Homo sapiens: one gene and its partners. The protein of the gene in region 2 interacts with the protein of the main gene of each other region in a biochemical or structural test. Each region holds a gene or a part of one and is shown on either strand. Other genes may lie near its edges.

Region 1 (7,399 bases), on a different chromosome or scaffold from region 2:
TATTTATTATATCATAAATTAAAAATATCCATATATACAATAAATAAATAGAACCAATATCAACAAAACATCTCTCAATTCTGGAAAAAAATTTCTCACTCCTACTGTAAGCCTCAATTAATGTTTTAGAAATAATTTATGAAGGCATGCACCTACCTTTACAATCTGAAAACTTTGCTGGGAACAGTGTTAGCACCTGTTTGTATACAGCAAACTCAACCCATCTCATTTTCTTCCCAGAAAAATTTGATTTTAAGTGAAGCTGTTCACTGTTGATTCTTTGCCCTATTTGGTAAATCCTAAGATAAGAATAAATTTCTAAAAACAATTCTGAAGCCAAAGACATGTCCCTTATGGCTCCCCATGTTTGTAGTGTCCCTGTTTGATTGACTATGAACAACACAGAAAATACACTGGAATGTATTTGGAAACGGAGTTAATTGTGTGTTGGAAAGCAGCAGAGGGCTCTCCTGACACCTCAGAGTCTCACCGTACCTTAGTTTCTTAATAGCAAGCCCCAGAGCAATCTCCTCTAGCTTTTGGGATGAGCATGTGTGGCAGGATTCATCTGCGAGTTCAGGTTGGGTGCTGACCGTTTTGTGTGATGGGTTGGATCTTCTCCAGAGAGACGTCAGTGTCATAGTCCAATATGACTGATAGGGCTGGGGACAGCTTCTCCAAGGGTCTGGCGATGCCAGCTGCCTCCTCCTTTTTCAGGTCCTCAGAGGAGCCCACAGCATGTGGGATCAGGTAAACCAGATTGCACTCCTTGGAGATGGAGCCTCGTGGCTCATGATGGCTGGAAAACATCGCGGCCCCATTGTTATTGATACTCACCGTCTCTATGGCATTATTCGTCGCAGGGCAAAGTCTGTAGCATCCTAAGAGGGTTGAAAATGCCTTCCGAAAATCAGCATTAAAGGCATAAATGATGGGGTTCAAGGATGAATTAGCCCACCCAAACCACACAAACACGTCAAAGGTGTTGGAATCAATGCAGAAGGGCTGCGTCTCCCCAGACCCACAGAAGGGCAAAATGCAGTTCAAGATGAAGAAAGGTAGCCAACAGCACACAAACACACCCATGATCACCGACAGAGTCTTCAGGACTTTAGTTTCTCTTTTGAAGGACATCTTAAAAGAACTTTCCGGTTGAGAACATTCGACAGGCTTTCCATTACCTGTGGTGGTCTGGCAATTCTTGGCGTGGACTGCTGCCCTCTCCAAGGCCGCAATGCGCCGTATTTGTTTCTGAGCAATCCTGTAGATCCTGGTGTAGGTGACAATCATGATGGCCACAGGGATGTAAAAGCTTATTACAGAGGATGAGATGGCATATGTCCTGCTGAGGCTGGAGTCACAGTTGTCTATGGTCTCAGCCAGGGAAGTGGCATTTCCATCAGAGGGGCTTGTGGGTTTTGCCTTGTGCCAGCTGAGCTGCACTGGGATGAAGGAGATGAGTACAGACAAGGTCCATGCCACACTGATCAGGATGAAGGCTGCCTTGGGGGTCATCTTTCTCTCATACCGGAAAGGGCTGGAGATAGCCCAATACCTGTCCACGCTGATCACACAGAGGTTGAGGATGGATGCAGTGGAGCACATGATGTCAAAGGCCACCCAGATGTTACAGAAGGACCCAAAGGGCCAGAAGCCAGCAATCTCAGCCACTGCCTTCCAGGGCATGACCAGGACGGCCACCAAGAGATCTGACACAGCCAAGGAGATGACAAAGAAGTTGGTCACCTTGGACCGCAGGTGTCGGAACCTGATAACGGCAGCACAGACCAGCGTGTTCCCCAGGAGCGTGGACAGGATGAGCAGCGACAGGAAACAGGCAGTGAGGATACGAACAGAGAAGTCCCTCTCCACCACCAGCCCAGTCCCGTCCATGGCAGAGGTGTTCAGAGTCCTCATCTTCCTAAGAGAAAGCACATCAGGGGCTCTGACACCCCTCAAGTTCCCAAGCAGGGAATAGGGGTCAGTCAGATTTCCAGGAGTCCTCCCCACCAGGCAGCACTTTGCACAGCCAGATTGCTTCCCTGGCAGAGGGCCTCACCAACATTCCATGAGAGGACCGCTTGAGTGGCAATCCAAGTCAATCCCGTGGATGGTCACTCTTGATTTCTACATCTGTCTTCTGACTCCCTTGCTGCAGGTCACTGTCTTGGGCACCAGAAAGCCCCTGAATTCCCCAAATAAAGCACTGGCTTTTTAGCATATTCTAAATCATCAATCCAGTGACTCCTGGGCCTCTGCTCTGCTAGTCAGTTGCAATCACATTTCGGGGCTGTTGCTTTTCTGGTGGTGACAGGAGATTCTCCCCTTCTGAGACTCAGCTGAAAATACATGTCTTCTCGCTCCTCCAAGCCCCTGGCTCCTCAGCAGCTCTCCAAACGCCTTAAAAAGCAAAAGGAAAACACACGGTCTTTCTCCAAGACTTAAGCAGATGGCATCATTACTCACGTCAAGCCCAACCTAATAATTCCCAGGGCGAGCCCGTCCGAGCCACCTACCTTGCCTTGGGGTCGTCTCTCTCAAAGCCCCTGGAGCTTGGAATGTGGACTTCGCTGGGGGCAGCGGCTCCGAAACGTTGAGGAAGCGCGCCTGAGCCCAGCCAGCTGCGCGCAGCAGGGGTTCGGCTCCCGGTGCGCAAAAATCGCCGGGGTGCGTTTGGGGAAAGGATCCCAGGCCAGGTCCCAAGAGAGGCGGCGGCAGCCCACTTCCTTGAAGAGCTGGAGATTGTTCAAAGGGCACTAGACCCCGGCTAAGGGCTCCTGGGCGCTCGGAGCTTCCTTGGGAGAGAGCACTCCCAGGACTGGTCACCTGGGCAGCTTCTTTTCTTGGCTTCCTTTCGAGAGCCCAGAGCCTTGGCGAACCTCGGGCGGCCTTCAGCCCTACAGAGCAGGGCCCCGCGCCTCCCCGCAGGCACTGCCCGCGACCTCTCAGGAGCCTGTGGCAATGCGAGGCAGCGAGCCGAGCTGGCACCAGCAAGCGCACAGGCCGGCGGGGTTCCCGCGGGGCACAGCCCACCCCGCCCGCGCGTCCCCTCCCCTGCCCTGGGGGCGGTCCTCGCTTGACAGGCAGAGTTGCGGGCGACAGCCGCACGTGGTCCCCCTGGATGGTTCTGCGGGCGAGGTGGGCGGAGGACGCCCCGGTGAGTGCTTGCCCTCCCTGGTTACCTCGCCAGTCTCCGGATCCCCGCGCAGCACGCGCAGGGCCCGCGAGGCAAATCCAATGTCAGAACCTCAAGTAAGCTTGAGTCCCCTGAAAGCAAAGCTCAGCCCCGACATCCAGCGCCTCTTGGGGTCAACCCCTAGCCGGACCCAAAGCCCTAAGCGAGCGGGAGCACCCCCCATTCCCCGCACACCAACTCCTAGAACGGCCGGCGGACGTCCGACCTGCGTTGTCTCCAAGTGTCCCCTAACTAGGGTTGGAGATGCCCGTGGGCGCCTGTACTCACCGCTCGCAGGGAGGGCGCGGCGCAGCTGGGATCCGGGCCAGCGCGCGCCGCTGCGCCCCGAGGGGACTCACTCCTTCCCCGCCCAGGTGGCGGGCGCGTCCCGGCTGCGGTCAACGCCGGACTCCAGCCGGTGCCCCGCACCTCCCGAGCGCCCCAACCCCAGCGCCGCGCGCTCCGTGTGCCCGGGGCGCCCTCTGCCGGCGGCTGCGACTTCCCGAGCGCCCGCTGTGCCCTCGCGGGCACCAACCTCACTCACAAGGGTTCCAGCGACCGCCAGGGACCCGCGCCCCGACTCGCTCTTCCCGGTCCATGACTGCCAGAACCTGAAAACAGGGAAGCGGAATCTTCTCCACTCAGGACTCCTCCGCTTGAAACACCCTGAAAAACGGACAAGGGTGAAAAATTTTACTTTGCTGGCATTGCATTCGTGAATCTATGTTTCCTCCTGCGCGCCCACTGCGTTCAAACCTGGGGCGCTAGAGCAGGCGAGACGCAAGCCTTACTCTCAAAGAGAACGGCAGAGCGGGCATTGACTCAGCAGCATCCGTGTTCCCCGGTGCACGCCTTACGTTGTTCCCCCGTTAAAAGAATCTTTCCCCGCCAGGCCGGCTCAACCCGCTTCGCCCAGGTGGAAATGCGGCTCGGAAAGGTAGTGGGGCCTGCTCAAAGTCACACAGCTCACGCGGGAGCCGCGCCGCTGCCCACCTGTTCTTTTAACTCACCGCATGTGGTACAGGAGCCCACAAACTGGAAAATTACCTACAGGGCTAAAATACAGGGAAGAGTCATATGGAGGCAGCGGGGCCTGGTGGAGAAGGAGCCCCCAGCCTCCCCTGGTTGCCCCAGGCAAGCTCACAGGTGAGACTTTGCACTAATTGTGCATAAATTGCGACACTGTGGTGCCTTCCTGTGCCTTCCGAAAGGTGGGAGGAGAATAAGCATGGATCCCCCAAGTCACACTGCCTGACTTCCTGGTCCTGCCCTGCCACTGTCGGCTGCATGTGCACTCTCTCCTCTCTGAGCTCGGGTTCTTCCTCTGTGAAACGGTGAGGACATAACAGGATTGTCATAACTATTAACTGAGACGGTGTTTCCAGAGGGCTTGGCACCAAACCTAGGACCCCGTCAGCCCTCCATAGGCAGGAACCCCTGGGACCCATTAACAAACCAACAGTCCAGGCCAAGCGCGGTGGCTCACGCCTGTAATCCCAGCACTTTGGGAGGCCGAGGAGGGCGGATCATGAGGTCAGGAGATCGAGACCATCCTGGCTAAAACGGCAAAAATACAAAACAAAATTAGCCGGGCGTGGTGGCAGGCACCTGTAGTCCCAGCTACTCGGGAGGCTGAGGCAGGAGAATGGCGTGAACCCGGTAGACGGAGCTTGCAGTGAGCCGAGATCGCGCCACTGCACCCCAGCCTGGGCGACAGAGCGAGACCCCGTCTCAAAAAAAAAAAAAAAAAAAAACTAACAGTCCAATCTCCACAACAGCCATGCACCATATCAGAAGCAAGAATTTTCTCTGGGAAAAAAAAAAAAAACCCTAAACCAAAGTAATAATTCCATTTAGTTCGCCAGCACAAACTGTACTTTGGTTGTTTGTTTATTTAGAGACAGAGTCTTGCTCTGTCGCCCAGGCTGGAGTGTAATGGTGCTATCTTAGCTCACTGCAACCTCCGTCTCCAGGGTTCAAGCGCTTCTCCTGCCTCAGCCGCCCAAGTAGCTGGGATTACAGATGTCTGCCACCACATCCGGCTAATTTTTTGTATTTTTAGTAGAGATGGGGTTTCACCATGTTGGCCAGCCTGGTCTTGAACTCCTGACCTCAGGTGATCCACCGGCCTTGGCCTCCCCAAGTGCTGGGATTACAAGCGTGAGCCATCGCGCCCGGCCTTTGGCACCTTGGCTTAAGATGAAAGGACCATATTGCTGGCACAGACCCTCCGGTGCCTGTGCTTACAGCTGTCTCCTCCCACCCATGGCCTCGCCGTCACACACAGCGTCCAACAGACTGGGGGTCAGAGACGCAATTGTTGCCACACACATTCCCCAAGAACTGCATTTCTGTAGAGCCCTAAGTCACGCTTAACGTAACACTTTCAGATCACTTTCCCCAAGGCCGTCATTCTCCAAACTTCTTGACTTTGTTTCATTTTCTTTCTTTCCCTTTTACTAATAAACACAAATTAAAGATATGTTTCTGGTTCGAGACTTGTCATGTAAGCCTGAGCATTTAACTCCTGACATTCTACCCTGGCATCTGCAATTTTCCACTGAAACTACCCAGAAATAAAATAGGTAGGAGAAATTCAGCATTAACCTTGGAAAGCAGGAACGGGTAGGATCCTGATCTGTGGGATAATGAGCCAGTGGAATTGGACTGGGCAAAGCAGGACTCCATAGGAATATTCCATATGGCAAGAAAATGTACTTCAGGAAGTAACCTCAAAAGAACACACTACCTGCCCTGCCACCCCAAAATCGAGATAGCAGACTCTGGAGGTAAGGATAAGGCCAATTTGAGGGATAAAATTTCTGTCTAATGACTGCCTTTCAGAAGTGCCCCCAATTCCCAAGTCTTCTCAGAGCCAACAACAATGCCACTGCTCTTGTAATTAAAAAACAAGGATGACAAACACAGCACAACACCTGGGCTTCAGGTGGTATCATGCTCAAGAAAACAGCAGTTTAACAGTGGGAAAATATTTGACACAACATTTAAATATTAATCAAAATTTTGTTCAAAGGAACATTCATAACATACTTCATATTCTCATTTCTCTCAAGCCCACCAGCTGCTCAAAAAACCTTTTTGTTTTGCTTGAAAAATCACCTAAATTATTTCAAACTAGCCCATACTGACCTTTATCTTTTTCTCTCAACCCATTTATCTGACAAGTCCAGGTGATCAAATCAACACATACCATTTTGGTAGTGATTGAGAGCTATTTCTTGACCACAAGTAAATTTCTGTCATTTCAATATTAAATCTCCTCCCTACCCATATGCTATGGTTTGAATGTCTCTGCCAAAACTCATGTTGAAATTTAATTGCCATTGTGACAGGATTAAGAGTTGGGACCTTTAAGAGGTGATTAGGCCAAAGGGTTCTGCCCTCCTGGGTGGACTAATGCCATTATCTCGTTATCTCTGGAGTGGGTTAGTTACTGCTGGAGAGAGCTCCTGATAAAAGGATAAGTTCAGCCTCCATTCCCTCCCTGCCTCTTGTGTAGTCTCTTCTTCTGCCAAGTTATGATGCCACCCCACGATCTGAGACTTCCCAGCCTCCAGGAACTATGAGCCAAATAAACTTACATTGTTTATAATTTACCCAGTTGGTGGTATTCTGTTACAGTAGCAGAAAACAGACTAGACATCATAACATACAAAAAAGGCTCAGAAACCCAGCCAGCAAAGCAAAAACGACTAACAGGTAGAGAAGGAGAGAACCTGAGAATAACCAAGGAGGTGATTTTGTTTAAGATCACCAGGAAAACCAGAGGGTTGGACCAGTTTGTCTATCATTCTATAACTCACTGCCTGAGATTCCTTCCTAACAGACATAGGTCACTGGCTTTTGAACGTCATTGCTGAGAGAACAGGAAAGAGTAAAATGGAGCTGAAATCTCAGTGTTTCACTTTGCACAGAGTGTGAATTTCAGAGGAACTTACAGTTTTGCTAGAGGTTTGGAGTTTTTCCTATTTTCTTATTTGAAGCTACGGTGAAACAAAGCCTTCTATTTTGTTCTATAAAAATCTCCCCCACAAACCTCAAGAACACAAATGTAAATGCAATCAGGTATTAGATCATGCTGAGAATGTAAACCCAACACAAAAGCACCTTTGTTTCCCAATTTAGTGTGTCTTTTAAGCTCTACTGTGGGTGATTTATGCACTGCGAAGAGGAGGATGTCAAAATGATGCTTTTCAACAAATC
Region 2 (7,683 bases):
AACGTTTCAGTGCTGCAGCGGGAACAATTGCTGATTGTTTGGTATATCTTTTCTTCTTTCTCCTCTGTGTCCTCGAATGACCACAATCAGGTTTTCTTCTTGATCCTTCAGTGAGCCAAGGAGCAGCATATAGTCCAGAGGGTCAGCCCATGGGGAGCTTTGTGTTGGATGGTCAGCAACACATGGGGATCCGGCCTGCAGGTAGGTTGGCTCATCCCGCCTCTGGGCTTCCCTGGGAAGTGCCACCTGCTCCACCAGCCTCTCCATCCACTCTACTATCCCACTGTCATGGTGGGTTTAACATTTGCCTGCTGCCTGCTCTGCCTGCTTTCTTTACATTGGGTGGGGGAAAAAATTCCTCTTTGAAAAAGTAAAGATTTTACCACAGTACCATTATACTCTGCCCCATACACATCCTTTTTCTTTTTTCTTTTTAAACCAAGGCAATAAGTGAAAAGGAATCTGAGTTTCCTTCTATTTTTTCACCATCAATTATTGCTGATTTTCCGGCCTCTTCTTGGATTTTATCTCCTTTCTAGGACCTATGAGTGGAATGGGCATGAATATGGGCATGGATGGGCAATGGCACTACATGTAACCTTCATCATGTAAAGCAATCGCAAAGCAAGGGGGAAGTAAGTACAGTCGGGTGCGATCTGTCTTCACTATCACTTCAGAGACTTTATTTTATTTTTTATAATTTGCCCCCATTTTATTTTTCCTTGCCCATAACTGCATGCCTTTCCAAACTAAGGACCTGTTTTTAAATATATATCACCCATCTCTGAAGTCACAGATGACACTGATGTGCACTTTTGAAAAGGCCAACTGACAAGCCTGCGTGTGTTTTAAGCAGGTGGGACTGCCTTTTAGCCTATTTACTGTGGCCCCAATGTGCACAAACACAGACATCAGGCAGATATTGGACATTTAAGAATAAAAATAATGTCTTGGGGGCACCAGTTGACTGAGAGAAATTAAGCAGGCTTCAATGAAGCGATAAAAAAAAAAAGGAAAAGTAGAACTGTCCTTTGAGTGACATAAATCTGTCAGAATACGATTGATGCCCAAATTATCTTATATGCAAAGATGAAATGCTGCAGTTCATTATGCCTAGTCTAGATATATGACAGCAGTGACACCATTGATTCTTCACTAGGGAGTCGGTGTGTTTTGATTATTTTTTACATGTGCCTACTGACTTCCGACATGAGACAGAAAGACAGGAAAGTCAGTCAATAAATTTAAAGGGAAAGACATTTAGGAGCAACTGAATATGAAGGAATGGATTTTTCACTGAGGCTGAATGGCTGCAGTTGGATTAAGAAACCCATTAGACTTTAAAGCTTCAAGTGTTTTTGACATCTGAAAAAAATTCAGAGTCTGCCAACAAGATATATCCTTTGCTGAAGACACCAGAGCATAAAAAAATTCATATAACATTGAAACTTCCTTGTTTAATGAGGCTGAATATAACAACACGTACCTTGATTAAATCATTCTCTATATGTAAATAGAGGCCAACATTTTATAGGGGAGCTCAGGGGGTCACCACGGCACACCATTGATGAAGCCAATTTCCTTCCTTCCTTCCTTTACTAATGCAGTCAAAAAATGTAGAAAGCAATGTTCCCTAAAACAGCTATAGAGAAAACATTTGCTCAGCTTGGATAGTTCTTAATATAGGCCATATAATTTCTAGCCTATTTAATTACATAACATATTTTATGCTTCATGACCAATTACATTAATAGCTTAATACAGAAGAATATTATCCTCTCTTGATTTGATTATGCAGCCACACAATATGGTATATTTGGTACTTAATTATCATCATCCATTGAGCAGGCTGCTGTGGTAGAATAAACAGAGAGCTGGGACTATGCAGGCTGTGTTATTGTCTTTAGATGGTTTTGCCACTTCTGTTAATAATGGACTGCGGATCTACTTAACAAAATGACTGCAGCATATAAGCCTTTAGATTACCAGCTTACAGTGTCAAAAACATCTGTTCAGCTTTTCAACTGTATGCACTGGAGGTTAAATAGAGGTGAATAAAGCTGTCCTTTTAGATCCGGGGATGTGCAACAGTAAATATAACCTTAATTCAATAAACAGGTAACTTGTAAGAGAAATCAGAATCCTTACAATTGCTGACTTCCCACCATTTAACTCATAACTTTGAATGTTGCATATCTCAATTGAGAATTTCTACATTTATTACATTTTATTCCTAATATCAAGGCATTATTTGGGGGGATTTTCAGAGATAAACTACCGGGCATGTCATATGACCTCACATTGACTTCTTACCTTTGACCTTTACAATCTCTTGGGTGTACTGCTATAGGAATGCCTCTAATTCAAAAAGGGGGCTTCATTTTAAATACACGTAAAAGCTCATTTCTTCAAAATGAATATGCTGTAATGTTTTGTGTAATAAATTTTTCATGAGGAAATATAGATATGATAAGATGTCAATTTTATTTTATTCTACTATCTACAATTTTTGTCCAGGTCTACAAATGCAACACAGAAAAATAAATGATCTATCAACAGTTAACTGATAAAACTCGACTCAAAATTTATATTCTTATTGCATTTATCAAAGAAATGTACTGAATACCATTTTGAAAAACAGTTCCACTTTATGACATTTAGTTGCATTAAATATTTAGTTCTGTTGTGTTGCATTATACTGCTGTGCGATGAAATTAAATGCAAACTACAATTTGAATGTCTGCAAACATTGGCAAGAATCTGCAGCTAAATTTAGGTATAAGATTTGCAGTGTCTGTTGTTTTTTTTTTTTTTTTCTTTTCATCTTTGATGGGTAAAGTATAAAAATGTTTAGGAATTTGACCCGCTTTCTTTTTCCCTCTCTATTTTCAGGTTTGCAGAGCATGCCAGGGGACTACGTTTCTCAGGGTGGTCCTATGGGAATGAGTATGGCACAGCCAAGTTACACTCCTCCCCAGATGACCCCACACCCTACTCAATTAAGACATGGACCCCCAATGCATTCATATTTGCCAAGCCATCCCCACCACCCAGCCATGATGATGCACGGAGGACCCCCTACCCACCCTGGAATGACTATGTCAGCACAGAGCCCCACAATGTTAAATTCTGTAGATCCCAATGTTGGCGGACAGGTTATGGACATTCATGCCCAATAGTATAAGGGAACTCAAGGGAAAAGGAAACACACGCAAAAACTATTTTAAGACTTTCTGAACTTTGACCAGATGTTGACACTTAATATGAAATTCCAGACAGCTGTGATTATTTTTTACTTTTGTCATTTTTCATCAAGCAACAGAGGACCAATGCAACAAGAACACAAATGTGAAATCATGGGCTGACTGAGACAATTCTGTCCATGTAAAGATCCTCTGGAAAAAGACTCCGAGAGTTATAACTACTGTAGTATAAATATAGGAACTAAGTTAAACTTGTACATTTCTGTTGATCACGCCGTTATGTTGCCTCAAATAGTTTTAGAAGAGAAAAAAAAATATATCCTTGTTTTCCACACTATGTGTGTTGTTCCCAAAAGAATGACTGTTTTGGTTCATCAGTGAATTCACCATCCAGGAGAGACTGTGGTATATATTTTAAACCTGTTGGGCCAATGAGAAAAGAACCACACTGGAGATCATGATGAACTTTTGGCTGAACCTCATCACTCGAACTCCAGCTTCAAGAATGTGTTTTCATGCCCGGCCTTTGTTCCTCCATAAATGTGTCCTTTAGTTTCAAACAGATCTTTATAGTTCGTGCTTCATAAGCCAATTCTTATTATTATTTTTGGGGGACTCTTCTTCAAAGAGCTTGCCAATGAAGATTTAAAGACAGAGCAGGAGCTTCTTCCAGGAGTTCTGAGCCTTGGTTGTGGACAAAACAATCTTAAGTTGGGCAGCTTTCCTCAACACAAAAAAAAGTTATTAATGGTCATTGAACCATAACTAGGACTTTATCAGAAACTCAAAGCTTGGGGGATAAAAAGGAGCAAGAGAATACTGTAACAAACTTCGTACAGAGTTCGGTCTATTAATTGTTTCATGTTAGATATTCTATGTGTTTACCTCAATTGAAAAAAAAAAGAATGTTTTTGCTAGTATCAGATCTGCTGTGGAATTGGTATTGTATGTCCATGAATTCTTCTTTTCTCAGCACGTGTTCCTCACTAGAAGAAAATGCTGTTACCTTTAAGCTTTGTCAAATTTACATTAAAATACTTGTATGAGGACTGTGACGTTATGTTAAAAAAAAAAAGGTGTTAAGTCACAAAAAGCGGTAATAAATATTTCATTTTTGATTTTTTGTTAGGCTTTTGCGTTTTTAATGGTTTTAGGACAAGACTGCACAATGCCAACTCTATACAGTGTTAAAAGTAGGTTTTTCCCCCCAGCAGTTGAGTATATTTTAAACTCATCAATAATTTTTAAGGTAATCATCTATAGCCTTTCAATGTCTATTTGACCTATAAGTTCCACCAGCAGAAAACTTCTAAAGGTACGAAACTATGTGTACATGATGAGCCAGGTTGAAAGATCCCCTTGAACATGCTCAACCTCCTTTTTAGATGCATGACGTTAAAAAATATATACTTTCAGATAAAGCTTTTCATGGGCATCCTCTGCCAGAATAAAGGACTTTTCAGGGTTAATTTTACAACATAAGAAATAATGTCTGTGCTCAAAGGTAATTTATCTGCCTGTGTTTTTCCTCTGCCTGTCTTACTACAATATTGTTGGATATGTAAATGAAAATTTACATATGGGTGTTCATAGATAAGTAAACAACTTCTATGGAGTTTGAAATTCTGACTTTAAAAGATTACTTAATCATTAATATTTTATAAATTATATTGTGGTATATTTTTATTTCAGACACATCCATGTGCAGGGATGCTAGTGTGATGATTTGATAACTAAACTTAAACTTTTTTCTGAAAACAAAACAAAACAAAATGGACGGTATAATGCCATTTTCAAAATTTTATGCAACATTCCTGGAAATCTATACCATTAGCTTATTGATACTGCACAAACAATGTCTGCTAAAGTGTGCAAAAAGGGTGAGGCATGTCCCCTCAATTTTCAAATAAATATACTATCCTGGAATTTTTTAACTCTTAAATTTTGAATCTTTGTTTAGAAAGAATAATGTCATATACTTTGGCTAGATATGTGATGTCAACCGGCTAAGGAAATTATTCATCATCTCTGCAAACTTAAACTTGGAAGAAATCCATAGTTATTATTTGGGGCTCTTCCATCTTTCCATTTCAGACAGCATTTATGGAGGTTCTATATAAATGAACGAGGAAATACACTTCTATTGTTTTGTGTTATATTTAGTCAGGTAGAATTTTTACAAATACATTTCAGTTTAAGTGTTGTGTTGCTGTTTAAACATAGAAATAATGCTTCTGACACAAACTAACTTAATAGAGAAATTCAGTGCCACTTGGGAAAGAGAGATAGCTTCCCTCTCATTTTTGCTATTCTATTTTACATGAAGTCTTTTTGTAAATTTTAAATATTTGCCTATTTTTACTTTAAATACTTTTATGTAAACTATGAAAATTCCCCATTATAAATCAACTCTCACATCAGGTGGGAAAAAGAACCTTTTTTTCTTTCCACTCAGTAAATTCTGAAGGGTTTCCTTGGCAATTGGCTCGTGTTTAGGATGTGTTTTATGCAATTATCAAGTTATCTCATTGAAGTTTAGAGACCAGAGCTCTCAACTCTTGGTTTTAATGAATAAAGTCATCTCATGCTTAGTTTATTCGTCAAACCCACGTCCTATCATGTTAACTTTAACCTTCTTAAATATTTGGAGATGAATGATAATTGTAATATTTGTTTGCATTACCTTGCTCTCCCCCACCCCCAACCCCATGATAACACAGAGAAGTGATAGATTTGTCCAATTTTTATAATGCTTTTTTTACACCACCCCGGAAGGCACTTGCTCCTATCTCGGGTTTACTATTTAGTGTAAAGAGTTCCGATTTGGGTATATTTAAGAAAGACTCAGCTGTCAAAAGCAAAGAAACTGGGAATGGTGTTTTGACAACCATATAGTGTTAAAGGAAATACTGTAGTCTGAATAAAATTGCTTATGTTCTCCAAAACAAGAGTAATATAAAAACACTTTTTTATTTATATGAAAAAGCAAAAGCAGAAATAAATTCCAAAGGTTTCCCTTTCTTTAAGAAATTCTGAGAGAACTGCAGTCGCCATCTGTTAAGGGTTGGGAATTGAGCAAGAAGCCACATTTTAAACGAAAAAGAGAGAAAAGACCAGGAAAGTCTGTGTCTTCCGTCCACCCCTCCTCTCTTCCACCCCCTAGGTCAGCACCCCTCACGCCCCTCAGCTCTCACCCTCGTTAGAGTCCACCAGGATCCTCCTGCCTCCTCACCCCCTCCCGCCCCCGCGGGCCTGTTAACCCGGAGCAGATTTGGGAAGGGAAATGTGGCTAATATCTCTAGCAGCTGTCAAAGGAGGGACCTTCCTTCAAAGGGACTGGACAGGGATCCTCCACAAGTTCTCCATTAGCTAGCAGGCCAGCAATTTGATAAGGAGCCTGGACCTCCGCTACAAGTTGCCACTCAGTTAGAAAGTCCGGTGTCCGGGTGTCTGGATGCGCGGAGTGACCCCAGCTTCGCGGCCGCAGCCCCCGCCGCCCACCCAGCGGGGTTGGTGCAGACGTGCGTCCTGGAGCCTAGGAGGAGGCAGGACAGAGGCTTGGGCCGCGGCAGAGGGGCGTGCAGAGGGCTACCCTGGCCCTCACCTGGCCTTCCCTGGGCGCGTGTGTTAGAGTTAGACCAACGTATTGCAAACTATGGGGGCACGGGGGGCCCGTCCCAGTTACAGTTGCAGTCATCAACTCAGGGCGTCGCGCGCCGGGGCGGGCCCCCTCCGTCGGGGCCGGGGCTGGGAGAAAGTGCCGCGCGGGGGAAATGCTGGTCTGATGGGGGAGGCCGGTCAGATTGTGATGAGAATGGAGACCGTCGGGGCAGTGTTTGAAGGGAGGTTTTAATATTAATAGTTTCGGTGTAGAGACAGAAGGGAGATTGCGTCTACGGCTCCTCCGGGCAGACTCTGGGTGACAGGAATGATGGATGATCCGGCAGAGCCCAACAGCTCCTCCCCCCCCAGCCCCAACAGTGTCAAAGCTACTTTAGTTGAAGCTTTAGAAATAAACAGCATCGCCACCCCCCCATACTCTTAGTACACCTCCACCCTCTCCCCCCGCTTTCCGACATCGATTTATGGATCATTATGAATCAATTACTGCCCTCAATACCTTCCCATTGGCTTAAATAAAACAGTTGAAAGATGAAAACGTGGGGTTCTGTGGAGATTTTTTTCCCTGACAAGAACAATCGCAAAATCCATTATCTCATAATCCGAGGCGCTGGGTGAGGAGGTGAAGAGAAAGGACGGGGTCACCCAGTAAATAACTGGGGGGAACGCAGGAAGGGGGGTGTCGCCCAGATGCTGCCTTTGTTTTCTTTCAGATGGGTTTGGTTGGTTGGTTTGTTTGGTGTTTGGGGAGCGGGGTAAACTCGCGTGAGAATTAGATGCCTACAAGTTTTGTGACCTAATTATTTAACTCCTTTGGAGAGACCCCTTTGAATATGTGTCTCGTCAAACATCAGATGTT
Region 3 (3,990 bases), on a different chromosome or scaffold from region 2:
ACACAATTACCCAAAAAGAAACAGTCACATTCACATACGGTTACACACACACCACTACAAGCCCGTGCATACAATGATAGTTTCGATTTGCAACTTAAGCAGAAACAAGCATTTACACGCAAGAATTGCAAACACAATTATACACTTAAATACCATTATAAATATTCACTATTTGCTCGCATTGCTGATTGCTCACATTATCACAAACACACCACACACACACACACACACACACACACACACACGACTCTCACATCCAAAGAAATCCACATCCTCTCAGGCACTGGTAATCCCAGGAGAGCCTGGCTCTCCCTGCTCTCCTCAACTCTGCCTTCTCTCCATCTGTCCTCTTCCTTTCCTCTCTCCAGAGCCTTAGGGTCCTGCCCCGCAACATGTCTCTCAAGTTCAGGTACCAAGGGCTGCCCCTGAAGCATCAGCTCACACACCAAACCCAAGTAGCTGAAGGACGCTAGGGTCCGCAAGGAGCAGGCAGCCCTGACTCCGGATCCGGAGGCTTTTATTTATTTTTTTCACATAAATTACACAAGCACTTTATAAAATGGTTACACAGAAAACACCTTATAAGTGCATAAATTAACACCCCCCCACCCCTCAAATGGGTTCTGGAGAAATGGGCTGCATTTATGTGAAAACCTGTCTGTGCGTACCTGGATTGGGCTGGGATGTGTGGTGGGGGCCTGGCAGACCAAGTGAGGCTGTTGTAGCTGTTGGCTGTTGTGTGTGGTGTAGTGTGTCACAGTGTGGCCATGACCTTGTGTTTGTGCTGGAGGGAGTGCCATGCTGTTCAGGATGAGTCTGTGTCACCCCTGACCTGTGCCTGATCGTAAGGTCCAAAGTGTAAACACTGTGACCCTCTGTCTGGTTGACACTCTCCCATAGATGCCCATGTGTGGCTCTGGGGTGACACCAGGAGGGACAGTGACACCACCTGTGTGTGGGCCTATGGGTTTCCATGTGTGTGATGAGAAGTGGGTCACAGAGAAGGGGTTTCCCAGGGCAAATTCAGATGACAGCCCTGGGGACCCCAGAAGCTCCTCCTCCCTTACCTCCCTTGCCTTTCTCTGAATCCCACGTTAAAAATTAAAATAAAATGAAATAAACAAAAACAGATTTCTTAACAGTTCAGACAGGTGCGGGACGCCTCTGGGAGGGGGGCGCGTGTCCTTGTCCCTTGAGCTCTTCCACCGAAGGGAGAACAGTGTCGGCACAAATGTGGGGGCCCTTCGGGGCCGTGCGAGGGCAGTGTTCCCCTCCTGGGTGCAGTCTGAGGCCAGGAGGGTGGGGAGGAGTCCTGGGTCTCAGGCCTCAGTGACCCCTGAGTGGGCCTGGGGTCCCACAGGGCAGAATGGGCAGGCTCACTCGCAGGCCGACGCCACCGACGTGACGCTAGTGATTTTGGTCGAGTCGTCAGACCACGGCTGCAGATTCTGCAGGGCGAAGAGCGACGAGTTGTGCACGCACAGAGGGTCAGCGGGCAGCGGCTGTGCCAGGCTCTTCTGGAAGGCCTCCTGCTGCAACTGCAGGAGGATGCGGTTCGCTTGCTGCCTCTCGGCCTCCCGTTCCTCCGCAGTCTGCCGTCTGCACCGGGAACAAGCCGTTACCTGCCAGGAGCACCGACCCAGCTCCCGCGTGTGCCCAACTCCTGGTGCGTTCCCAGGAGATAAACTGAACGAGCGCTGCTCGCCTTTGCAGTCCCCAAATCCAGTTTGGGCCCCTATAACGCGTTCCCTTCTTTTGAGAGTCCTGACTCCAACAAAGACTGGAAACCCCAAAGCGGATGGAGCCAAGGTATCCCAGAGGAGGAGCGATGGGAAAGTCTGCGAGGCCCAAACAGCTGGGACTCGCATCCACGCGCAGCGCCCACACCCCGGAGGCCTCACAAGGGGCAGCCGGGGTAGGATGGCATCTCGCCTCCCCCTCCCCGGCCCTGAGGGAGACCAGGTGCCATTCCAAGCCAGAGGGCCCTCACCCTACCCACAAGTCCAGGGCAGAGAGGCAAGGACCAGCGGGTACGATCTGCTCTGCGGGACGTCTCTTTCCTCCCTCTCTCTGCGAATGTCTTCTAGGACTTGGGCCTTCTGTGTGGAGCCCTGTGCCCTACCGGGGCTCCTGCTGGACCCACTGGCTTCCTCTGAGGCAGTTCAGGGAGGCGATGACTCACTTATTCCATTTACTGCCGCCCCTCCACCCTGTCAACTGAGATCAAACGTCTGTCTCTAAGGTGGACAGACCTAATGGGAGTCCCTGGGGCCTTCAGAAGCAATTTGTAGGCGATCGATGAAGCCATGCGAAGCCTGCAAGGGCCTCTTCCAGCAGCGGCTGCTGACCTGCTCTGGGCCGCCTTTTCTTGACTCTGTGTATCTTTCCGTCTTTCGTCTTTCCCTTATCCCCTGCATTTCAAACGGCCTGAATATTTCTCTTTTAGGCTTTGTGTCTTATCTCTCGTTTTCTCTCCTCCCCACCCACTTGGTTCTCTCTGAATTAAAGGAATTTGTTTGAAAAGAAAATGGTGGTTTCAGTCATCCATTGCTTTTTCTTTATTATACATAAATAAGACTTCTGCAGGCTGCCTGTTTTTCTCCTTTTTTTTCCTTGAGCGGGGTCCCTATCCCTCTCCACCTCTGAAACTGGTTGTGTTTCAGTTTCTCTCTTTGCCTGCCTCTTTCTTTCTCTGTGCCCCTCTCTCTGGGAGGCCTGCCAGGCTGCCTCTCCTCCCCTAGGCCAGCAGCCCTCAGTAGGCCTTGGAAACCGGAGTCCCCCCAACCCCCGAGCTAGCCCTGGCTCCCTCTTTAGCGTTCCAAGGTCTGAGGCCGCATCCCCCACTCCTTTCCCAGCGTCAGAAATGTTGTGGTAGAATCGTGGGGCCATGGCTTCCTTTGTGGCCCCGTAGGCGGAATCCCAGGCAGATTCCTCGCCTTCGTTCAGAAAAAGAGGAAACTCCAATTCCTTCCTCCTGCCCCAAGGCCCGCCCGTCTCGGCGCCGCCGACTTCGCCCAGACTCTCCCGCGCTACCCCATGGGGCCTGAGCTAGGGGAGAAACTCCGGCGGGCAAGGGCCAGATGTGCGGGAGGGTGCAGCGTGCCAGAGGGTGCAGCGTGCCAGAGGGTGCAGCCGGAGAAAGCGTCAGTGCGCGCGGAGAGGGAGGCTGCTCGAGAGTGTTGGGGACGCTTCACGTCCGTGAGCGTAAATGTGAAAAAACAAAACAAAACAAAAAGCCCATTGCGTAGTAACTAGAGTTGTGGCTATGGGAGAAGGAAAATTCTCTTTCTCACACACACCCATCTGCTCCTAATTGATTCCCCTTCCAGTGGGACCCGCGAAACCCCGCCGCAGCCGGCGCGGATTGATTTTCTCCTTCCAGGGTAGGGACCGGCTGCGCAAAGGCCGGGTGTCTGGGGGAGGAGACCGTCAGCAGGGCCGCGGTCTGGGGCCACAGACCCTCTGCCGGGAGCCCGGCTGGAGCGCTGCAACAAGGTGCGGGCTGTTCTGCATCCAGTCTCCAGGACAGAGCAGGATTCCATAAGCAAGAGTTTGCGCAAACAAAAAGCTCCCCAGGACTCACAGATCCCTGGAGCCTGGACTGCGTGGAGTGCACTAACCCGCCTGTTTGCCCAAGCGGCGGAATAGACCTGCCGCGTCTACACCGGCAGAGAGTGTGCCAACCAGAAAGCCCTGAAGCCTCCGGTAAAACAGAGCCAGGGCTCTTCAGCCCCATCCCAGCTATCGGCCTCGGTTGCTTCCAGCTCCCCGCAAGCCTAGCGGGAGCTCGCTCCTCCGAAAGGATCAGAAACCGCGAGCGGAAAAAGTATGTGCGCCCCACGAGAGGCCAATGAACCGAGAGCTGCCTGAGACCGCGCCGCTCGCGGGCGGCCGGCCCGCCCCGCTTGCTCACCTCCACTTTGTCCGCCGGTTCTGGAACCAGGTTTTGACCTGCGCATCGGTCATTTTGAGCGCCTTGGCCAGGGCGGC

Evidence for each region. Proteins that work in one complex are often made in the same cells at the same time.
Region 1: the proteins of MEIS2 (region 2) and DRD1 form a complex in vitro, tested with the Homo sapiens proteins (one study listed by BioGRID).
Region 3: the proteins of MEIS2 (region 2) and TLX1 form a complex in vitro, tested with the Homo sapiens proteins (one study listed by BioGRID).

What each region holds. Positions count from the first base shown.
Region 1 is NC_000005.10:175,441,183-175,448,581, forward strand, and holds the start of DRD1 (D(1A) dopamine receptor), read right to left. Parts: upstream 3,001-7,399; 5' UTR 2,517-3,000; intron 2,401-2,516; 5' UTR 1,918-2,400; coding exon 577-1,917; 3' UTR 1-576.
Region 2 is NC_000015.10:36,887,669-36,895,351, reverse strand, and holds the end of MEIS2 (homeobox protein Meis2), read left to right. Parts: intron 1-90; coding exon 91-201; intron 202-539; coding exon of another isoform or gene 540-598; exon of another isoform or gene 599-635; intron 636-2,892; coding exon 2,893-3,179; 3' UTR 3,180-6,148; downstream 6,149-7,683. UniProt on the Homo sapiens protein: Involved in transcriptional regulation. Binds to HOX or PBX proteins to form dimers, or to a DNA-bound dimer of PBX and HOX proteins and thought to have a role in stabilization of the homeoprotein-DNA complex.
Region 3 is NC_000010.11:101,134,300-101,138,289, reverse strand, and holds the end of TLX1 (T-cell leukemia homeobox protein 1), read right to left. Parts: coding exon 3,914-3,990; intron 1,623-3,913; coding exon of another isoform or gene 1,619-1,622; exon of another isoform or gene 1,600-1,618; coding exon 1,377-1,599; 3' UTR 501-1,376; downstream 1-500. UniProt on the Homo sapiens protein: Controls the genesis of the spleen. Binds to the DNA sequence 5'-GGCGGTAAGTGG-3'.